Linked DNA regions of Homo sapiens. The protein of the gene in region 1 interacts with the protein of each later gene in a pairwise test. Each region holds a gene or a part of one and is shown on either strand. Other genes may lie near its edges.

Region 1 (3,783 bases):
GTAGCCAGCTTTTCCTCATGATAGGAATTACCCAGAGCCCTTGTTAAAGTGTGATTCCCACACCTTCCTATGAAGATTCTAGTTCAATAGATTCGAGATAAGGGGGTCCTGCAAACTGTCCTTAACAGGACTAGATCAATGATTATCAAACTCTGCACTGGAGTCACTGGGAGGGCTGGTTAAAACACAGATTGCCCCACCCCAGAGCTTCTGATTCTGCAGGTCTGGGGTGGAGCCCAAGAATTCGCACTTCTAACAAGCTCCCATGTGGCACTGATGTTCCTGGTCAGGAAAATCACACCTCGAGAACCATTTTACTAGATCATTCCTATAACCAGGTGAATTTGGAAGAAATCACCACTGTAGCAAATTTCTCTGAAGCTGTCATTGGAATGACGTATTATGTTTTTATCTAACCCTGTAATTACCCTGATTTAGATGTCACCAATAATTTTCTATGAGTCAGAAATCAGTTTCAAACACATCTCTGTGAGCTCGATACAGAGAGAAATAAAGGAGTCCAATGTGCTGCTCTTTCTTTATCAAGGTAAAAACACTAGTTTAAGCCATGTGGATGCTGCCAAAATGCCTAGAGTGTATACTATAAAGAGTTAATACAATAACAAATCAGGATAAAGAAGCCTATTCAAAGAACACAGACAGCTTTCAATGTCTGTATTCCTGGGTCAGACTCAGGTCTCTGGTATGTCACCACATAGCACCTATTGGAATGAGCAAGAGCTAATTTTTTAAAAGCTGATTTAGACACGCCTATTATTTAGAGATCCAAATTGGGCCACTGGGGCTTTAGGAATGGTACTTCGCAGCTCAGTGCAGCCACTATAAACTCAAGCCGGTTGTATCACTACTTTCCATGAGGAATTTAAGGGGTGTGACTGCATCCTTTCCAACCCTACATTCCACATGTGACAAAACCGATCCAGCTGTTTGTCTGAAAGAAATTCCTCACTGTCCTTAAATATTAAAAAGCAAGTGGATATCCATCCTCAGGGGCAAGTCTCCAGCTGGAACCTGGTACAGGCAGTTGCGAAACAAAGACAGTGCCCTGGAGAACATCTGCTTTTGAATTCTTACCTCGCCATAGGGGGGTTAGCCCCATCTTGCTTTTTGAAATGGCAGATTCTGGATGGAGGGTGATGGCTTGGCCCAAAGCTCTTGAGAAGTGTTCATCCACTACTGACCCAATGTCTCCCTGGAAATAAGTGAAAAGGACACAGCGAGAGTTAAGGTACTCCATCTCGGCAGGCTGGTCTTTCTCCTCCTCCTCCTCCTCCTCATCCTCCTCCTCTTGTTTGCTGGGAAGGGTGACTTCCAGAGAGTCCTGCATCTTGCTGAATACCGCTAACTTCTTCTGGGATGGAATAAACAAAACACAGTATCAAAGACAGTTTGTAGAAAAGCATTCACTAGTTAAGTTTTCACTTTTTTAAAAAAAGAATCTAAATATTAACATATGTTTGCAAACTGATTCTTCTTCATCTGTTTTACTCCATCTTTTTCCTCCCCAAACCAGTTGCCTCCTTCCCACACTAAAAAAAATACAACAAAAACTCTGTGATTCTACATTTGGCAAACGAACATAAAAGCCCATTATCAAATAGTATATTTTCAATACAAGATTTTGTTTTTGCTTTTGTTTTTGTTTTGCTTTTTGTTTTTTCATCTAGCTAGGCCAACAGGAGAATTACTTTTTTAAAAAGTTTTTCTTCCCAGTTTTGGTTTATTTTTAAAAATGCAATGTACAGCAGTGTTATGGTTTAGGACAGAGAGGAATGACTGTCTGGGGGTGGAGTGGAGAAGAAAAGAACTTTTCATAAATAAAATAAACTAAAATAAAAACAGGAATGTAGCATCTTATAAAAGGATTTGGCAGATGTGCTGAACTCATGTCTTCAAAAATCAAACTAAAATGGCAAAATAAGTCTGTGTGAAGATGCATTTTGCATGGAACATATTTTTTAGATGTTCCGTTTACCACCATTATCATGAGGGGAAAAGATTTCATTATGGCTTAGTGAAAATATTACAAAATACTAGTAGTGGGTTAATCTTTCAATTAAAAATGAGAAAGATTTGTTAATTTAAAATGTTTAAAAATATAATTCTAATAATAATATACATTATTTCAGACATGTTTCTAAAACTTTATATTTATCACCTCACTTAATCTTTACAATTCTATAACATGGCTATTAATACTATCCATATTGTAAAGATTAAAAAGCTAAAGCACAGAAAAATTAAGTTACTTGCCAAAAGTCACAAATCATGTAAGCTGCAGAGTCAGAATGCATAAGAAAAACATACAGGTATAGACATGTGTGTGCATATATATGTTCTGAGGAATGGCAGGGAGGGATATCTAGCATATAGATATGCGTGTGCATACATTTGGTGGGGAAAGGCAGGGAGGGATATCTAGAGTAAAAAAATTACAAAAATGTATTTTGTATTGTTTTTCTGTGTAATACGTTTATAGTTAATTGTCATTTTCTTATTTCTGCTTTTCAGTATTTCCAAACATTTTTCACTGAGCACATATTCCATTTATTATCAACTTCAATGCGAATTACATATAAGGAGATAATGCTAAAGATATGAAATGTATTATTCTAGTGACGAAATGAGCTTTCTCTGTCATCTTTATGTCTGCAAAACCTGATCCTTGATCATACCTTTTTTTTTTTTTTACTTTGAAAAAAACGCATGCTGGAAAATGAATGTGAGTAGAAATAGATAAATCACTCCAGAATACCCAGTAATTTTTCAAATGTTAGCAAAATACATACCCCAGACTCTATATTTCTAATGTAATTACTAGCTTCAATATCTATAGCTTCAAATTATAAATGCACCATTCAATAAATTGGTCCCTTTCCCCTAGCAGTGAATATGTTGTTCTTGTATAAGGTGAGTACTGAAATATTCAGAAATACTATGAACTTCTAGTTATCGTTTCAGGATGGTTATTTATAAATATGTGTTTTGCTTTTATTTAAAATTCGTATCAGTATGGTTATGATTTGTTGATGAATAGATAATTCATACTTTGTAAGTGAATGTGCCTTGCTGATGAATAGATGATTGCTTTTATTTCTCATAATCTACCTCTGCACAGATTTGAACATGTTTATATTTAACTTCAATAGTATAAACACCATAGAAACATATGGTATGTGTAAAATGAGGGAATCGAACTAAATAACCTCTAAAACTATTCCTAGTTTTAAATTCCATTAAAAAATTAAATGAATATTATGATTTATTAGTCAAATCACAGTGCTGCTTCTTCGGGTGCATGTGTATTTACCTAAAACATGTATTGTTTTAACCATATGCACACACTCTCTGCTGAATATTCGGGCACATTAGAAAGCAGCTCTGTTTTTCTATGAAAAAAAAAAACCCTAAAACCTATCTACATGGTGGCATCATTGTCCACAAGTGTTCATTCTTATCCGTGAAACTAATTTCTTTTTTCTGTTAATGTCCAGCTCAGCATCAGTTTGTGAGAGTGGGGCTTTGCATATAAATGCTTTATTTGTTTAATTGTAACATTCATTCTTTAAATAGAAGAGCCTGGCTACATTAACAATCCAAATAAAGTCAAAGTTTTATTTTATCCTTAATTGACAGCAATTAATTCTTAGATGAAATAAAATTGAAGTTATATATATGTAAAGGATTTGAAGGCCATGAATCCTGATACAAACGTCAAATAGTATTCTTATCAATAGTAGCAATCATAAAATATCAATTTTA
Region 2 (3,080 bases), on another chromosome or scaffold:
GGCTCACGCCTATCATCCCAGCACTTTGGAAGACTGAGGCGGGTGGATCACAAGGTCAAGAGATCAAGACCATCCTGGCCAACATGGTGAAACCCCGTCTCTACTAAAAATAAAAAATTAGCTGGGTGTGGTACTGCGTGCCTGTAGTCCCAGCTACTCGGGAGGCTCAGGCAGGAGAATCGCTTGAACCCGGAAGGTGGAGGTTGCAGTGAGCTGAGATCGCACCACTGCACTCCAGCCTGGCGACAGAGTTAGACTCCATCTAAAAAAACTAAAAGTAACAGAGGCCAGGCACAGTGGCTCATGCCTGCAATCCCAGCACTTTGGGAGGCCAAGGTGGGTGGATCACTTGAGGACAGGAGTTTGAAACCAGCCTGAGCAACGTGGTGAAACCCCATCTCTACCAAAAAATACAAAAATTAGCCAGGCACAGTGGCATGCGCCTATGGTCCCAGCTACTCAAGAGGGTGAGGTGAAAGAGTTGCTTGAACCTGGGAGGGTGAAGTTGCAGAGCCAAGATCATGCCATTGCACTCCAGCCTGGGTGAGTAAGACCCGGTCTCAAAAAAAAAAAAAGTAATGGAGTTCTGAAACAGGAAACAACACAGAGAAACCTTGAAAACATTATGCTGAATGAACTAAGCCAGACATAGAAAGAAACACAGATTGCATGATTCCACACATATTTATGTTCCTAGAATAGGCAAATTCAAAGAGACAGAAAATAGAATTGAGGTTACCAGCAGTAGGGAGAAGGGGGAAATGAAGAGTTATTATTTAATAGGTACAGGGTTTCTGTTTGGAGTAATAAAACAGTTCTGGAAATACACAGTGATGATGGTTACACAACACCATGAATGTACTTAATGCCACTGAATTGTACACTTAAAAATGGTTAAAATTGTAAATTTCATATTATGTTATTTCACCACAGTTAAAGGCAACTTCAACTCTATTGACATAAAAAGTATGAATGTTAAGTTTGTTTCATTTATTTTTTGAGACAGCGTCTCGCTCTGTCACCCAGGCTGGAGTACAGTGGCACAGTCTTGGCTCACTGCAACCTCCGCCTCCCAGGTTCAAGCAATGCTCCTGCCTCAGCCTCCCGAGTAGCTGGGATTACAGGCACCCACCACCACACCTGGCTAATTTTTGTATTTTTAGTAGAGACGGGGTTTCACCATGTTGGCCAGGCTGGTCTCAAACTCCTGACCTCAAGTGATCCACCCACCTTGGCCTCTCAAAATGCTGGTATTACAGGCATGAGCCACCACACCTGGCCGATGCTTTTAAATTTACAATATGTAAAAATGTTAAAATATATGGTGCTCTCTTCAGTGTGAATTTTCTGATATTGAGGAAATAGCAAAAGTGAAGATCCTAGGTGCTGCAATGACAAGCATTACGGTATTTTCTTTTTAAAATGCTCTCCAGTATGTCTCGAAAATATTCGTAAATCAGCAGCAATGAATTTTTTTTCTAAGTGGGAGAGATCACAGAAGCTTCTTTTTTGCCCACTTTTCTGTCTCAATTTCTCTAAAATGAACATGCACTGCTTTTGATTTAAGAAAAGAGGTTTGTTTAATGAGAAACGTCCTTTCACTCTGTGAAAACATCGTGTGGATAATACATAAAGGGCAGAGTCAGGTGCCGGGGGCGCATGCAGGAAGTGCTCAGCTGGACTCTGCCCTCGGACACCGCGCCACTGTTACATGGAGAAGTCCTCCCGGAGGTGAATCCGCTGATGCTGACACATGTTGGAACTGTGCCGGAAGGCCTTCCCACACTCGCTGCACTTGTAGGGCTTCTCCCCGGTGTGGATCCTCCGGTGCTGAATCAAGTACGTGCTCTGGCTGAAGGCTTTCTTGCAATCGCTGCATCTGTAGGGTTTCTCTCCGTGGTGCAGCCTCTGGTGGTGGATGAGTCTGGAACTGTTGTGGAAGGCCTTCCCACACTCGCTGCACTTGTAGGGCTTCTCTCCTGTGTGGATTCTCTGGTGCTGGATGAGGTGTGTGCTTTGGCTGAAAACTTTGCCACAGTCATTGCATTCATAGGGCTTCTCTCCAGTGTGGCTTCTCTGATGTTCCACGAGTTTGGTTTTTTGAATGAAAGCTTTCTCACATTCATTACATTTATAGGGTTTCTCTCCAGTGTGAATTCTCTGATGTTGGATAAGGTTAGAACTTTGTGTAAAGCCTTTGCCACATTCCTTGCACTCAAATGGCTTCTCTCCGGTGTGAGTCCGACGATGTCGGATAAGGATTGAGCCATCACTGAAGGCTTTCCCGCAGTCATTACATTTATAGGGTTTCTCTCCGGTGTGGATTCTCTGGTGATAAATCAGGGAAGAGTAGGCGCTAAAGTGCTTCCCACACTCCCCACACTTGTAGGGTTTCTCCCCAGTGTGAATCCTCTGGTGCTTCATGAGGTTGGGCCTCCGGGTGAATGTCTTCCCACACTCGTCACACCGGTAGGGAATCTCTCCTGAGTGCATCCTTCGGTGATTGATGAACTCGCAGCTCTGGCTGAAGGCTTTCCCACACTCATCACATTTGTAGGGCTTCTCTTCAGTGTGAAGCCGCTGATGCTTGACAAGGTTGGCACTGTACCTGAATGTTTTCCCACAGTAACTGCAATAATGCAATTTTTTCCCAGTAGGAATTTTCTGATCTTCTTTAACAACTAAGTTTGCACTGAAGATTTCCCCAGAGTTACGAACTGTATTTGTTTTTTTTGACCTGTGTACACGCTTATGGTTGTTGAGATATGATCTCTGTTCAAAACTTTGCTCACATATATCACATTTGTGAGGTCTCTGATCAGGAACAGGTCTTGACAGCAACCTGAGGTTTCCCCCAGACTCCCTGCTGCTCTCCCCGTTGGTCAGTGTGACTGCCCTGGGGCCTCTCTGCTCCACTAGCTTTTCCAGGCTCCCCTCTGACTTACTGATGTGGTCACAGGCTTCTACTGGCTCAGATCCCTGGGGATCTTCCTCACCAAATGTCTCCTGTGAAGTCAACTCCTTGTACTCAGTTCTGGTCCCAAGAGCTGAAACAAAAAACAGAACATCTAAGGGTCACC

Evidence for each region.
Region 2: the proteins of VGLL3 (region 1) and ZNF34 interact in a two-hybrid assay, tested with the Homo sapiens proteins (one large-scale study listed by BioGRID).

Annotation. Positions count from the first base shown.
Region 1 is NC_000003.12:86,977,431-86,981,213, forward strand, and holds part of VGLL3 (transcription cofactor vestigial-like protein 3), read right to left. Parts: intron 1,373-3,783; coding exon 1,096-1,372; intron 1-1,095. UniProt on the Homo sapiens protein: May act as a specific coactivator for the mammalian TEFs.
Region 2 is NC_000008.11:144,771,559-144,774,638, forward strand, and holds the end of ZNF34 (zinc finger protein 34), read right to left. Parts: intron 3,048-3,080; coding exon 1,708-3,047; 3' UTR 666-1,707; downstream 1-665. UniProt on the Homo sapiens protein: May be involved in transcriptional regulation.